Regions from separate parts of the Homo sapiens genome. Here region 1 is linked to region 2. The links come from fine-mapping of genetic effects on gene expression. Tissue or cell type: whole blood. Region 2 holds a variant in brackets; the other region holds the start of a gene. All regions are shown on one strand. Distances are from middle to middle.

The links. PIP is the estimated chance that this variant, and not a neighbour inherited with it, causes the effect.
Region 1: PLLP starts here. The variant in region 2 is fine-mapped to the expression of PLLP in whole blood (TOPMed, PIP 0.95).

The regions. Positions count from the first base shown.
Region 1 is chr16:57,279,995-57,287,994 of GRCh38, forward strand. PLLP (plasmolipin) reads right to left here and starts at 4,678. Exons shown (of 4, transcript NM_015993.3): 1 at 4,412-4,678. The coding sequence starts at 4,546. RefSeq lists an enhancer at 3,756-4,417 and silencers at 4,462-4,871, 7,121-7,333.
Region 2 is chr16:57,102,675-57,111,018 of GRCh38, forward strand. CPNE2 (copine 2) reads left to right here. Exons shown (of 16, transcript NM_152727.6): 2 at 8,034-8,248. The coding sequence starts at 8,069. Among named protein-coding and RNA genes, the nearest start is that of CPNE2, 14 kb to the left of the region's middle. RefSeq lists enhancers at 453-1,408, 2,688-3,287. The variant A/G (reference allele first, on the strand shown) is at 4,725.

The DNA of each region.
Region 1 (8,000 bases), 180 kb after region 2:
GCCTCAAGGACGCCTACTGACTGACAGGTCTCTGTACAAGCTCTGGTCTGTCCTGATCCTCCTTCTCCCTTCCTATGCCAGGAAGCCCTCCCTGATGGCCTTGGCCCCTGATGAGTCTCCCTTCCTGCAGTCCCCCTTTTCCCCCTAGAAAGCACTCTAGAACTTCCCACCCCCAAAGTAAACAAGATGAGGAAGCATAGCTAGAGCCAGGTTTTGGATTTCCAGATCGAAGTGCAAAGCCAAGCTTGCCACTCTATCCTGTGTGACCTTGGACAAGTTCCTCACCCTCTCGGAGCCTATTTACTTATCAGTAAATCCAGATAAGATCATCCTTCTCCCCACGGCTTGGGGAGGCTTGAAAAAATGAGAGATGGGCACCTAACAGCACTACTTTATACTTATTGTAAAAAGGCTTTGGGAGCTCCCCATAAGCAAATAACCACGCCTTCTGCATTCTTCCACCTGAGCTACACAAAAATCTGTAGCACTGATGCCTTTTTTTTTTAAAACCAAAAGAGTTATCTGTAGATCAAACTTGCCTGCCTTGTGACATGAATCCATTGGCAAGAGAAAACAAAACAAAACAAAACAAAGACCTGCCTCCTTTTTTAGACGCTATCTGCATAGATTCTTCATGTTTCCCTTTTTGCCTAGGCTGCTAGGAAGTTCAACAAATAATCAACAGCCTTAAACTTGCTGCAAGTCAATTCTCCCCTCCACACCACCAGCTTTTAAAGATACATCGCTTTAACTCTTCTGTCTTATGTGGTTTAATATCATATTCCATCTGGTGTTCTTTCTGAATCTACAAGGAATAACGATAGTGATAAATCAATGAACACCACCAGACATCTGTGAAGAATACTGAGATTGGTTCTTCAGGACACATTCTGATACCGAATGAAAAGTGTATCTCCTTCTCCAGGAGCTGGGAGCCTTTCTACCCACCTCCCCTTCCTCCCACCATACCAGGAACATTCATCAAATCCTGGGAAACAGAAGGGTTTGATGGAGAATTAGCTTCCATTTTCTCATTTATTTCCTGCTCCATGCAGCCTTCTCTGATCCCTCTGGGAGAAGCACATCCTCTGGGCACCTCTCTCACTGACCAAGAGCTCCTGGAAAGCAGGCTGTGGGCCCAGGGTCCCCACCACTCCCTCCATAATGACAGATCCTGGGAAGGTAGCAGCAAAGCCACACGTGGTCATTAAGACCATAGGCCAGAAAAGTCAGAAAAATCACTCCTGTGGAGGAGGGCTGTGAGATCTTGGGCAAAGAACTGGCCTCTGAGCCTCAGTTTTCTCACCTAAAATGGGGCCGACTAAGAAGATCTAAAGGCCTTGGCAAAGGGCCTGAGCCTAGTGCTGGCCTGATAGATGGGAGCTACCATGGCTTCCCAGCAGATGGTGGTGCCTGTTGGATTAACCCCCACATATCCCATTTCAGACCCAGTGGAACTACCTGTTGCCAGAGAAACAGCTCAGGATGCAGCTTCTCCAACAAGCAGATTTTTTTTTTATTTCTTTTTTTTTTTGAGACGGAGTCTCTTTCTGTCTCCCAGGCTGGAGTGCCGTGGCGCCATCTCGGCTCACTGCAAGCTCCACCTCCCGGGTTCACGCCATTCTCCCGCCTCAGCCTCCCGAGTAGCTGGGACTGCAGGCACCCACCACCATGCCAGGCTAATTTTGTTGTATTTTTAGTAGAGATGGGGTTTCACCCTGTTAGCCGGGATGGTCTCCGTCTCCTGACCTCGTGATCTGCCCACCTCGGCCTCCCAAAGTGCTGGGATTACAGGCGTGAGCCACCACACCTGGCCCCAACAAGCAGATTTCTAAGGCACTAAAATGTGCAGGTCATTTTCAGAACTCTGATGGAAGACCCTCATCCCCTCAAAGGCACTGCAGGTAGGGAGCAAAAGGAGCCCACTTCCCTCACACCCAGTCCCTGAGAGTCAAGAGACCCAAGTGCCAAGCTCTATTACAGGACTCCTGGCAAGTCCTTCTAACTAGACCTCAATGTCTACGTCTGTGTAATGGGACCCAGATGCGCAGGGCTGGATTGCTGAGGCCACAGGGGATGCCCCCACCCATCCCAACCCCAATCAGGAACACAAGCCTGCCCTAGAGGAAGCTACCAAGACCCTTGCGGCCCACAGCAGCAACATCCTCCTCTTACTCCAATGCCTTCCATTCCCCCTATTGCCCCTATTGCTAGTCTCTTTCTTTTTTCTTTTCTTTTTTTTTTTTTGTGTGTGTGTTTGTCTGTTTGAGACAAAGTCTCATTCTGTCACCCAGGCTGGAGTGCAGTGGTGCGATCAAAGTCACTGTAGCCTCAAACTCCCAGGCACAAGGGGTCCTCCTACCTCAGCCTCCCAAGTAGCTGAGACCACAGGCGCATACCACCATGCCTGGCTATTTTTTTTTTCCTTTTTTTTGTAGAGACAGGGTCTCAATATGTTGCCCAGGCTGGTCTTGAACTTCTGGCCACAAGCAATCCTCCTGTCCATCAGGGGCCAGCCTCAGGATCCACCTCACCAGGGATGCTGAGGGATCCCTCACAGGGATCTTGCCAGTCATCATCCTCCACCCAGCAAGATCCCTCTTCTGTTCCAAAACCTCTTAAGGCCACCAACAGAACCTAGACCCTGTAGCTCGCAGAAGTTACACAAGGCCCTTGGCTTCTGTCCACACCAGAAACAAGTGCTTCAACTCCAGCACCACCAACCTGTTGGCTACTCCCTGCAAATTAATTCAACTTTCTCATCACCACATCTTGGCTCACACTGTTCCCTGCCCTTGGAACACCCTTTCCCTGCGTCTGCCTCAGATTTCAGTGAAGTCTCTGCTCAAAAACCACCTCCTCCAACAAGCCTTCCTGGTCGTGAAATTGCTCTCCTTCTCCTCTGCCCTTTCGCACCACTTCTCACACCCACCTGGCTCTCCCCTGGGCAGCCAGGCAGCTGCTCATGGCTGTGCCCCTCACAACCAGCCCAGAGCAGAGCATTCTAGCGGTGGCGGGGTCAGTGGCTCTCCCCATCTGCAGAATTAAATGATTCCAGGAACTAGACCTCTTCCCTCAGAAGACAGAATCTTCTCCCCTTCTCCCCCACCCCCCAAAAGAGAAACAAACAAAAAACTCTGGGAGAACTGTTAAAAATGAATTTCTGGCTGTACTTCCTGAGATTCAAATTCCGATTGCACATTTTTTTCCGGGGGTGGAGTCCAATAATCTAAATTTTAAACAAACCCGCCAGGAGATTCAGAGGTTGGGGAGGGGGCCCACAGAGATCTGAGAAATCCTGAAATGAGATAGCACTGACCCAGGTAGAGGTGGGCCCGCACCTGGAGAGGTCAGGGAAGGGAGACTGGACCTCAGCCCAGGGTCTGGCACCAAAGCAACCACCCTGCCCTCTAGCTTGGGCCTCGCAGCAGCGCTAGCACCCAGCAATAGGAGACAATGGGAAATGTCCACTCGCTGGATTGCTAAGAAATACAGGTCCTGGCCCAACTCCAATTCCACCTGAGTCCTCTGAAAATGTATCAGGCCCTCACCCACCCAGGGCACCCACCCAGCTTCCAGACCCTCACGAAAGGGTGGCAGAGGAAGAAGCTAACATCCGGGCCTGTGGCTGGTGTGGGAGTGGAGGATGTTCCCATGGGTCCGCCTCAGTTGGGGTCTGTACAGGGGTCTGGGAGAGAGTAGGAGTCTTGCCCCTGGCTACCCACAAACCCCTCCCTCCAGCGATATCTCGGTCCCGTGGGGCTGGCTAAACCGGCTGAAACCTGGCGGGTCACCCAGAGAAAGCTAGAAGAGCCCGGCTCCCGCGCGGGCGCCCACAGGGTAGTGCCTGAGTGTGCGTGTTGGGGAGTCGGATGTGCCCTCTAGATTAGATGAGGAATGTTCATGGGTGCGGCCACCCGGAGCCGCTGGGAGCGGGACAGAAGGTGGTCAGAGAGTGGACTTTGCCTCAGACTGGGTTCCCTAGAGGGCTGGGGGCACTGTCCGGGCAGAAAGAGGGGTGAAAAAGAGAGAGGAGGGAAGGGAGGGCTGGGAAGGGTTGGCGGGTTGTGCGCAGTGACTGTGGCTCCGGTGGGGGCTTCTGTGGCCGCTGGTAACCACCTTGGAGGGGGCACGATGGGGCACGGGCAGTGGGCACTCTGTACACGGTGCAGGGTGCTCACGCTCGCAGCGACGGCCACGGGGTAGTGTCGTGGTGAGAGGGATGCAGGGCGATCTTGGGGGCGTCCGTGCGGGAAGCGCCCTAGGGGTACGCGCAGCGCGTCGGTGACAGTGTGAGCCCGGGTGGGGAGCGCAAGGTTCGCGAAAAATGAACGCAGCGCCGGAGTCCCTCACCCATCCTGGCCGGACCGGGAGCCCCCGGCCAACCCCGTGGGCCCGCGCGTGCTCTCACCAGCTGCAGCAGCATGAGCGCCCCGAGGCGGGAGCGCACGAAGCCCAGGTCCGGGCGCAGCGCCGACACCGAGGCTTCGGCGCCCTGCGCAGGACTGCTGGTCCGCGTGCTAACTTTCGACGGGAACTCGGCCATGGCGGCTCCGCTTGCCTCCCGAGGTCGCTACGGCCGCCGTCGCCGCCCCTCCAGCGGTGGGTGCCGGCTCCCGCGCCGCTTTTCCCCCAGGCTCCGGATCCCTGTGTGGCTCCAGGCGCTGCAGGAGGCGTCGGGGCTGGGAGCCTGGGGCGCCAGGTGCGGCCGAGATCCCGGCTCCGCCCCCGCCGCCGGGGCCGCCCCCTTAACCCTTTGCTCGCCGCCGCCGCCCCAGCCGCGACCGGTTCGTGGGCAGCCGCGTCCACTCCCCGGACCAGTAAACAACCCCGGGTCCGTGAATCGGCTCCGCCAGCACCAGCCTAGACCGCTTCGCCGGCCTCCCCCGGGGCAAGCCGCCCGCTGGGAATTTCCCGGCTCTCGCCCAGGCCGTGGTAGCTTCCGCGCCTAGGGATAAACTTGTGGTAGCTCGCGGGGGACACCGCTCTCCCAGGCGCTTTCTACGCGCTGTGCACCCTCGGCCTAGGCCCCGGCGCAGCGACTCTTGAAGAGTCCCGGGAGAAGGCTGGATGCGGTGGCTCCTGCCTCTGATCGCAGCACTTTGGGAGGCTAAGGTGAAAGGATAATTTCAGGCCAAGAGTTCGAGACCAGCCTGGGTAACACAGTGAGACGCCCCCCCTCCCCCCGTCTGTATTTTATAGAAAAGAAAGTAAAGAAGAATCCTGGGAGACCCAGCGCGGGGAAGGGGAGGGTCTGGGTAAGCGGTGGGTAAGCGGTAGAAGGGGGAGGTCCTTTTCTGCCTATTAATGCTGTTTTCACTTCTGAACATATTTTATATAACTTAGATGATCGCGGAGCCTCAGTTTCCTCGTCTGTCATATAGATACGAAGGAAACCTGCCTCACAGAGCGTTGTAGGGAATAAATGAAATATTCCCCAGAAAGCTCCTGACAGCGTGAGGGAGGAGGGGTCACTCAGAAGATGGGAGGTCATATACAGTTTCATTGCCACACATGCACCCTAAAATACTTACACACACACACACACCTCTTGAGCCTAGAGGTTTGCACAGATAGGTCATCATGCATTCATCAACCAATGTTTGCTGAACACCTACTACATGCCAGGCCCTGTGGATACAGCAGGAAACGAAGTAGACAAGGCCTTCTTGGCTCCCACATTTTTTTTTTCCCAAATACCCACTTAAAAAGAGAGCCACTTAAAAAATTGTTTTTAACTGACATGTAATATTAGGTTGGTGCAAAAGTTATACGGTTTTTGCATATAAAAGTATAGCAAAAACCGCAATTACTTTTTCGGCAACCTATAATTGTACCTAAATATGGGGTACCATGTGATGTTTTGGTACCTGTGTACGTTGTGTAAAAAAATCAAATCAAGGTACTTAGCATATCCATCACCTCATACATTTATGGCTTCTTTGGGGTGAGAACATTCAAAATCCCCACTTCTAGCTACCATATTTTGAAATATACAATATTAGGGCCAGGCGCTGTGGCTCACGCCTATAATCCCAGCACTTTGGGAGGCCAAGGCAGGCAGATCACCAGAGGTCATGAGTTTGAGACCAGCCTGGTCAACATGGCAAAACCCTGTCTCTACAAAAATACAAAAAAATTAGCCAGGCATGATGGTGGGTGCCTGTAGTCCCAGCTACACAGGAGGCTGAGACAGGAGAATCACTCGAACCCAGGGAGGCAGAGGTTGCAGTGAGCTGAAATCATGCCACTGCACTCCAGCCTGGGTGACAGAGCCAGACTCCATCTAAAAACAAAAACAAAAAAAGAAAAGAAATGTACAATATTGGTATTTTTTTCTTTTTACTTTTATTTATTTTGAGGCGAGGTCCCACTCTGTCACCCAGGCTGGAGGGCAGTGGCATGATCATAGCCTACTGCAGCCTCCAACCCCTAGGCTCAAGTGATCTTCTCACCTCAGCCTCCCTAGTAGCTAGGACTACAGGTGCACGCCACCATGCCCAACTAATTTTTTTTTTTTTTTGAGATGGAGTCTTGCTGGAATTACAGGCTCGAGCCACCATGCCCAGCTAATTTTTTGTATCTGTAATAGAGACTGGGTTTCACCATGTTGGCCAGGCTGGTCTTGTGATCCGCCCACCTTGGCCTCCCAAAGGGCTGGGATTACAGGCATCAGCCACTGGGCCCAGCCCTGACTAATTTTTTTAAATTTTTTTGTAGAGATGGGGTCTCTCCATGTTGCCCAGACTGGTTTCGCACTCCTGGCCTCAAGCGATCCACCCGCCTTGGCCTTTCAAAGTGCTGGAATTACAGGTGTGAGCCACCATGCCCAGCCCTAACTGTAACTTTGTACCTGTTAACCAACCTCTTTGTATCCTCCCACTACACCCCAGCCTCCTGTAACCACTATTCTACTCTACTATGAGATCAATTTATTTATTTATTTATTTGAGATGGCGTTTTGCTCTTGTTGCCCAGTCTGGAGTGCAATGGCGCGACCTCGGCTCACTGCAACCTCCGCCTCCCAGGTTCAAGCAATTCTCTTGCCTGAGTAGCTCGGATTACAGGCGCCCGCCAGCACGCTAAGCTAATTTTTTGTAATTTTAGTAGAGACAAGGTTTCACCATGTTGGCCAGGCTGGTATCAAACTCCTGAAATCAGGTGATCCACCTGTCTTGGCCTCCCAAAGTGCTGGGATTACAGGCGTGAGCCACTGCACCTGGCCGAGATCAACTTCTTTATTTCATTCCACATATGAGAGAGACCACGTGGTGTTTGTCTTTCTATGCCTGGCTTATTTCACTCACATGATGTCCTCCAGGTTCATCTGTGTTGCCACAAATGATAGGATTTCAGTCGTTGGATCCCACTGTCTGGTGGGGATGAGAAGTAATAAACCCGGGAGGAATAATACTTTCAGATAGTGACAAACGCTGTGACTAAAGTAAAATGGGGGAATGTGACACAGAGTCACCCACAGGTGATTTCTGGGTTAAGGTGGTCAAGGAAGACCTGTGGGAAGAGGTGACATTTATGCAGAGACCCAAATCATGAGTAGGGGCTAGCCTTGGGAATTCTGGGGGAAGAATTTAATAAGTGCAGGAGCCCTGAGGCTGGACCAGTTTTGAGAACAGAAAAAGGTCCTTGGTAGGGCTAGAGCCAAGTGAGTAAGGGTGAGATTGGCAACACGGGCCAGGGCCGGATCACACAGGCTATTTAGAGGACTGTATTAGTGCCCTGTGGCTGCTCTAACTTGGTGACTTAAAACAACAGAAATTTGGCCAGGCACGGTGGCTCACGGCTGTAATCCCAGCACTTTGGCAGGTGGATCACCTGAGGTCAGGAGTTCCAGATCAGCCTGGCCAACATGGCGAAACCCTGTTTCTACTAAAAATACAAAAAAATAGCTGGGCGTGGTAGTACACGCCTGTAATCCCAGCTACTCAGGAGGCTGAGGCAGGAGAATCACTTGAACCCGGGAGGCGGAGGTTGCAGTTAGC
Region 2 (8,344 bases):
CATTGCAACCTCCACTTCCCAGGTTCAAGCAATTCTTTTGCCTCAGCCTCTGAAGTAGCTGGGATTACAGGCACCTACCACCATGCCTGGCTAATTTTTGTATTTTTAGTAGAGATGGGGTTTCACCTTGTTGGCCAGGCTAGTCTTGAGCTCCCGACTTCGGATGATCCGCCCGCCTCAGCCTCCCCAAGTGCTGGGATTACAGGTATGAGCCACCATGCCCGGCCCTCTCAATCAGTTTTAACCTCGCCCCCTTTATGTAAACTGTTAACTTTACACATCCCCCAAATTTTTTATCTACTTTCCCCTCTTCCCCAGACATTAAGAATTGCTGGGGATTCAGACCTCACATAATGGGTTCCTAACTAATGCCTGGTACTGACCGTGACCAGGCAACCACGCCCCTTTCTTTGTTACTGCCACCAGCAAAACAGAATCTATTTTTTTCTTTCTTTTTTTGTTTTGAGAGACAGGATCTCACTCTGTCACCCAGATTCGAGCGCAGTGGCACAATCACAGCTCACTGCAGCCTTGACCTTGCAGGCTCAAGTAATTTTCCTGCCTCAGGCTCCCTAGTAGCTACAGGTGTGTACCACCACACCTGGCTAATTTTTTTATTTTTTATTTTTGTAGAGACAGGATCTCACTGTGTTGCCCCAGGCTGGCCTCAAACTCCTGGCCTCAAGCAGTTCTCCCACCTCAGCCTCCCAAAGTGTTAGGATCATAAGCGTGGGCTGCCACACCTGGCCTGTTTTTCCCTTTTCTACACATCAAGTTGCATGTGCTTTTCTGACAGCACACGGTGCCCTTGCTAGAATTTACGACAGGACATCCCACTGTGGTCCCAGCTCCTCCTCTCCACCAGCCTCTGGAATGGGGGCTGCCTCCCTGGCCACCTCAGGCCTGCCCTTCACCATCCAGCAGCTCTTCTCCCCTTCGGGGTTACCAGGCCTCCTCCTGGGCCATCTGCTTCCCTGTGCCTGCCTCTCTCACTGTCCCCTCCTCTCCGCCCATTTCTAAGTTGGAGGTCCCCCCACCCAGCCGGCCCAGCAGCTCCTCCCCGACAGTGAGCTCCTTTACACTATAGCTGGTTCCCGGGTTCTACATCGCGGTGGGGCCAGGGCTACTTTCTCCTCACAGCCATTAAGAATCACTGATCATAGCAAAAGCTACCTATTGTTCCAAGTGCTTTACCTCACTGAATCCTCACAACACCTAGGAAAGCACTCTTTTTTGGTTGTTGTTTTTTGTTTTTGTTTTGATATGGGGTCTTGCTCTCTCACCCAGGCTGGAGTGCAGTGGTGCAATCTAGGCTCATTGCAACCTCCGCCTCCCAGGTTCAAGCAATTCTCCTGCCTCAGCTTCCCGAGTAGCTGGGATTAAGGGCACACACCACCACGCCCAGCTAATTTTTGTATTTTTAGTAGAGATGGGGTTCCACCATGTTGGCCAGGCTGGTCTTGAACTCCTGACCTCAGGTGATCCCAGCTGCCTCGGCCTCCCAAAGTGCTGGGATCACAGGTGTGAGCCACCACGCCCGGCCGGAAGGCACTCTTGTTCCCATTTTACAGAGGGAGAAACTGAGACATAGGGAGTTGAAGGAACTTGCCAGAGGTCACAGAGCAGTTAAATGGCAGAGCCAAAGTGGGAAGGATGGAGTGATGGCAGCCTTGGCTCTGGGCCTAGTCACCATCCTTCCCTGGCTTAAAAAAACCACTGCCTCTTGTTGGGCCTCAGTTTCCACCCCTGTGAAGTAGGACACAGTCCCTCTCCTGCTGGCCTCTCAGACCCTAGGGTTTGAGAAGCTGCCTGTGATTCTCTCAAGTGATGTGTGCAGGGGGAGGTGGCTATGATTGCTCTGGGGCTGCTGATGATGGAGCCTGCCTGACGAGCCCCCACCTTCCTCATTGATTAGGTGCTCACATATGCAGATACGGCCATAGGTGCTGGGGAAACAGTGATGATGTCCTCCTGAGGGACGGGGCAGACAGACACAGGTACATAGACAGATATGTAAAACGATTGTACATTGCAGTGATCTGTGAAGGAAGCAGCATGGAGCGGAGACAGATTACATCAGCCTGGGTGATCAGGGAAGGCCTCTGAGGATGTGATATTAAGCTGACAAGTAAGACCTTTCCTGTGAAGAAAGGCATTCCTGGAAAAAGGAACAGCAAGTGCTAAGGCCCTGAGGCAGGAGAGAGCCTGACAGCAAAGGGAGGCCAGTGCAGCTGGGCCAAAGGAAGCAAGCGAGGGGGAGGGTGGCAGGAAGTGGGGACAGGTCAGGCAGGGTCCTGTCATCCTGGGCACGATTTGGGGTTTGTGTGACCTGGATGAGGAGGTCACAGGAAGACTTTCAGGTAGAGCCATGGTGGCATCTGACTTCTAGGTTTAAAGACTCCCTCTGGCTCTGGTGTGGAAAAGAGAGTGCAGCTGAGCTTGCATCAGAGATTCCTGTTATGGGTCAGGGTGTGTCTGGGCACGAGATGATGGGAGCCTGGCTGGGCTGACATAGTGGAAGTGGGGAGAGGACGGATGCTGAATGCAGCTTGAAGGTGAAATCAGCAGCACTGGTGGCATATAGGAGGTGAAGATAAAAGGAGATTAAGGACGATGAATTCCTAGTTTTCTGGCTAAAACCGTGATGTTCTAGGCCTGTGGCTCAGCACCAATGTCCAAGCCTGTCCTGCCTAAGGGCAAGATGCCTCCTCGCTGGGGTCAGTGGACCCTGTGAGGGCTGAATCCTATGTGTCCGGTTTTTTTTTTTTTTTTAACTTTTAAGACAGGGTTTTGCTCTATCGCCCAGGTTGGAGTGCAGTGGCACAATCACAGCTCACCGCAGCCCCAAACTCCTGGGCCCAAGCCATTCTTCCACCTCAGCCTCCCAAAGTGCTGAGATTACAGGTGTGAGCCACCACTGGCTCCTGTGTGTTTTATTAACTGCATAGCCCCGGGGTGCTCAGGGAGTATTTGTTGAATGAACCAATGAATCAGTGCCTGGGAATTCCCAAGTCCTGTCCTCTCTTTGCCTCAGTTGACCCATCTGTAAAAGAGACCACTAGTTTCATAAACCCCTCTCCAAGCTCCTTGCCTGGGGGGTCTGGTCACCCCAGAAGGGCTGTGCCCATCTGTGCCAGGAGTCAGGACCATGCTTTAAGCAGGCCCTGGCTCCCCATCCCATCCCCCAGCCTGAAACCTCAAATTACCTATGGGGTGGGGGCTGCCCCAGAGGTGTTTCCATCGTGCCCAGATGCGCATGGCAGGCCCAGCCCTCCCTTAATGACACCTTGCCTGCCTGCCCTCCTGCTGGGGTAGGAGGGGAGGGGGCCCCTGGCCCAGCCTAAGCTGTAGTTTCTTTTTCCATTGCGTCAGGCCTCAGGGTCCAGTACGCCTGGCTGCTGCTGGGCTGGCGCAGAGGGACCCACTCTTCCCCCCGCCTGCCCCAACTCCAGACATCATGTGCTCCCCGTTTCGGGGATCCAGAAGCTTCCAGCCAGAGGGTGAGTTGGAGATGGGAGGACCTGCCCCTGGCTCGGGGAGGAGTTCCCTTCCCACCCACCCATTGCTCACTCTAGCCAGGGCCTGAGCCGATCCAGGTGGAGTTGCAGTGAGCTGGGGGCTCCTGGCCCAGCCACCGCCCCCTGCCCCTGTGACCTGTCCCTCCTGCCCACGCCCTCAGTCAGGCTGGAGGGAGGGAAAGGCAGGAGGCTGGTATAGTAACCAAGGCAAGATAATGGGGCTTGGATGAGGCAGAGGGGCGGGGGTAGGGTAGTGATGGGGACAGAAGGAGGTGACCCCAGAGTGTTCATATGAGCATCTGTCATTGTATTTGTCAGTCTGGGTGCGTATGTGTATGTGTGTATATGTGACCACACGTGTGTAAATGGACAAGGAAGCAGGTGAATCTGGGCGTGTGTGCCTGACACCCTCAGGATGAGAAGAGAAGTGTCTGATTTGGCAGCAGGAGATGGTGGCCCAGGTGGCATCTAACATGTCACAGAGGGGGCCTGTGAAGTGAGGAGGGGGTAGGTGAGCTAGAATCCACCTCGCCAGCAATGGTGGGAGATGCAGGGGTGTGGACTGGGTGACCCAGAGGAACTGGTGAACTTGGATACTCTGGGGCCCATCCTGGGTGTGTGTTCAAATGGGGGAATGCCCTTGGCTTCCCCAGCCCTGATCACAACCTGCCCGCTTAGCCTCAGGCTCCCCTGGCCTGGCTGATGTCCTGGCTGTCCCTGCCTAGGTCCCACAATGTTCAGCAATCTCCCCACCCTGGCAAAAGGCCAAGCATTGGCCTGGGAGACCTGATTCACATCCTGTCTCTGCCTTTTCCTGGCCCTGTAACCTCAAGCAAGTGACTTTTACTCTCTGGGCCTCAGTTTCCTCATCTCTAAAATGGGGGCAATTGTCCTGCAGGCATGGGAAGGCGCTCTCAGCCACACAGCAAGACTTTGGACATCCCTGTCTGCCCCCTTCCCCACCCCACCCCAACTTGGCACAGCTGCCCAGCTGCACACAGTAAGAGTGAACGCAGTTCACCAGCTCCTCCAGTGGAAACTGATTTTTACACAAGAATAAATCCTGCAGGCAAATTGTAGTGCTGTCCTGATGCTCTGAGCTCGTGTGATTATAACAAGGTTCTAGGAACAAAGGCTGGGAGGGAGGGGGCTGAGGACCAGCTTCATCGTTGTCCAGATTTTTCCCCTGCCAGGCATGTCCGGGGA[A/G]CACTGGATCTGGAGGGGAAGCTGGGAGGTCTCCGCTGCCAGCCCCACTCTCACCCTGGCCTCCTGCAGACCGGGGCTTGCAGGGGACTGCATCTGCCCAGCAAGAGGCTGGCGCTCCAGAGTGCACCGTGGCCTGGGTGAAAGAGAGGAGGAGTGGACCCAGCATAGTGATGGTGGCTCGATCCTTCCTGCCTGGAGGACAGCAGCTGCCTCCTCACTGGTCTCTCTGCTACTTCTCCTTAGCTTGACAACCCCTTCTCCCCACAAGGGGCCAAGTAAGCTTTTAAAAACGCAAATCAGATAATGTCAGTTCTCTGCTTCTAAGACTTCCCATTGCTCTCAGAATGAAACTCAGACACCCTATCAGAGCCCACAGCTCCTGCAGGTCCTGGCCACTCTCCCTGCTCCCTCATTGTGTTCCTGCCAGACTGGACTGTGAGCCCTGCACGGGCTAAGACAGAGCAATCTTTTTTTTTTTTTTTTTTTTTTTGAGACAGTGTCTTGCTCTGTTGCCCAGGCTGGAGTGCAGTGGCGCGATCTCAGCTCACAGCAATCTCCACCTCCTGGGTTCAAGCAATTCTCCTGCCTCAGTCTCCCGAGTAGCTGGGACTACAGGTGCACGCCACCATGCTGGCTAATTTTTGTACTTTTAGTAGAGATGGGGTTTCACCATGTTGGCCAGGCTGGTCTTGAACTCCTGACTTCAAGTGATCCACCTGCCTGGGCCTCCCAAAGTGCTGGGATTACAGGCATGAGCCCACCATGCCCAGCCGAGAGCAGTCTTCTTACTGTAGCATTCCCAGCACTGGGACAGTTCTTGGGACCTAATAGATGCTCAGTACACCCTCTAGAGTGAATGAAAGCCTCAGTTTCCTCCTCTGGAAAATTATATTACTATACTTGCCTCGTAAGACTGAGTGAGGATTAGTGACATTGTTCAGGTGACATGCTCAATTAGTGCTCACAAGCACAGTGACTTGGATTTGTGTTCCCAGAGGGGGCCCACCCACCACCCCCACTTACTTCCCTCCACTGGAGAAGTTCAGGGTCAGTAAACCACTTAGCCTCAGGAGGACAAAGTATTAGGGAGTTGGAACCTGGCCATTGTTGGGTAGGTGTTTAGGGGCTAGGTTCAACCACTGGGATGACAGGGCCAGTGTTAAATGCACACATGCCAGTGGAAATGAGACCTGACCACAGGAGGCTCAAAGGGCTGTGTCCTGATGTCTCATGGGCAGATGGGAAACTGAGGCAGAGAAAGCCAGAGGACTTGTCTGCTGGGCCTGTGATGGGTGTGACCTAGGTCCCCCTCCACCCCTTGAGATGGGTTGCTCCAGTCTCACTCACACCTTGCACTCAAAGGAAAACAGAAGTCCTTCGACTGATCACATGTCAGTAATTAACCTTGACTGGAGGAAGATACTTGAGGCCCAGGGCACAGAATTTTGGGAAATTGTATATGAGTGAAAGGGTAAATTGTGTGTTGAAGATAAGGACCAATGCTGGCAGGATCTGAGGCATATGGAGGGTTTGTCCATTCATTCATTTATACACTCATCCTTTTTTCATTCAGCAAGTATATACTGGATGCTTCCTGTGCACCAGTCATTGTGTATGAGCTAGAGATACAGGGTGAAGGTGATAGACAATGAACAAGGGTGAATTTTTAATGTTACTGTTACAGGAAAGGGGTCCCGATCCAGACCCCAAGAGAGGGTTCTTGGATCTTGTGCAAGAAGAAATTCAGGACGAGTCCATAAAGTGAAAGCAAATTTATTAAGAAAGTAAAGGAATAGCCAGGCGCGGTGGCTCATGCCTGTAATCCCAGCACATTTGGGAGACCCAGGTGGGTGGATCACCTGAGGTCGGGAGTTTGAGACCAGCCTGGTCAATGTGGTGAAACCTCGTCTCTACTAAAAATACAAAAATTACCCTTGCGTGGTTGTGGGTGCCTGTAGTCCCAGTTACTCGGGCGGCTGAGGCAGAAGAATTGCTTGAACCCAGGAGGTGGAGGTTGCAGTGAGCTGACATCATGCCACTGCACTTCAGCCTGGGTGACAGAGCCAGACTCTGCCTCAAAAAAAAAAAAAAAAGAAAGTAAAGGAATAAAAGAATGGCTACTCCATAGACAGAGTAGCCCCAAGGGCTGCTGGTTGCCCATGTTTATGGTTATTTCTTGATGATATACTAAACAAGTGGCAGATTATTCATGCCTCCCCTTTTTAGACCATATAGGGTCACTTCCTGATGTTGCCATGGCATTTGTAAACTGTCATGGCCCTGGTGGAAGTGTAGCAGTGAGGACGACCAGAGGTCACTCTCATGGCCGTCTTGGTTTTGGTGCTGGCTTCTTTACTGCAGCCTGTTTTATCAGCAAGGTCTTTATGCCCTGTATCTTGTGCTGACCTCCTATCTCATCCTGTGACCCAGAATGCCTAACCATCTAGGAATGCAGCCCAGTAGGTTTCAGCCTTATTTTACCCAGTTCCTATTCAAGATGGAGTTGCTCTGGTTTAAACGCCTCTGACGTTACCAGAAGTGAGCTTCCTAGTGGCCAAAGTAGGAAGGAGAGAAGCCTGAGCAGTTGTCAGCTCCACTGTGGCCACAAGATGCCAACATGCTAGTTGCTCAGGAGAAGCCCAGGTTTTCCTGGCACAATTAGTATCTGAGACACCCATGTCCACTGTGATTTGTTGCTCATGTGACGGAGCAACACACAAGGAGCTGTGCATCCTTACAGGTGAAGACTGACCACAGCAGAGAAAAACTTCAAAGACAAATTTAACACAGCTACCAGAGACAGAGACTCTTTTTTCTTTTCTTTTCTTTTTTTTTTTTTTTTTTGAGATGGTATCATTCTGTCGCCTAGGCTGGAGTGCAGAGACGTGCAATCACGGCTCACTGCAACCTTGAACTACTGGCCTCAAGCAATCCTCCTGCCTCAGCCTCCCAAGTAGCTGGGACCACAGGCACGCACCACCATGTCTAGCTGATTTTTAAATATTTTTTGCAGAGACAGGATCCTCCTTGTTGCCAGGCTGGTCTTGAACTCCGGGCTTCCAGGCACTTGACCTCCCCAAGTGCTGAGATTATAGGCGTGAGCCACTGCGCTCAGCTGAGACTCCCTTTTCATGCATTTCCTTGCATTCTTCTTTCTTCAAACCTTTGCCTATGTTATTTGACAACCCGCCTCAATTTGCCTTCCATCTCTCCACTCACCTCTTAAAGGCCAGGTGGTAATGCCTCCCTATGGTGGGGCAGCATAGCAGGTGTCTGTCCACTCTCTGACCCTCACTTCTGTTCCCCTAGACTGCCAGGAACTCCTGCCACCGCCACCGGCTCCCATGGCCCACATACCCAGTGGGGGTGCCCCAGCAGCGGGGGCAGCCCCCATGGGCCCCCAGTATTGCGTGTGCAAGGTGGAGCTGTCAGTGAGTGGCCAGAACCTACTGGACCGGGATGTTACCTCCAAGTCCGACCCCTTCTGTGTCCTCTTTACAGAGAACAATGGCAGATGGATCGAGGTGAGGCTCTTCCGTGTGTCTGCGGTGGGTAAGGGGGTGGCTAGGCTGCTGGGGAGGGGGAGTCTCCCAGGACTGGGATCCAGGATGTCTGATGGA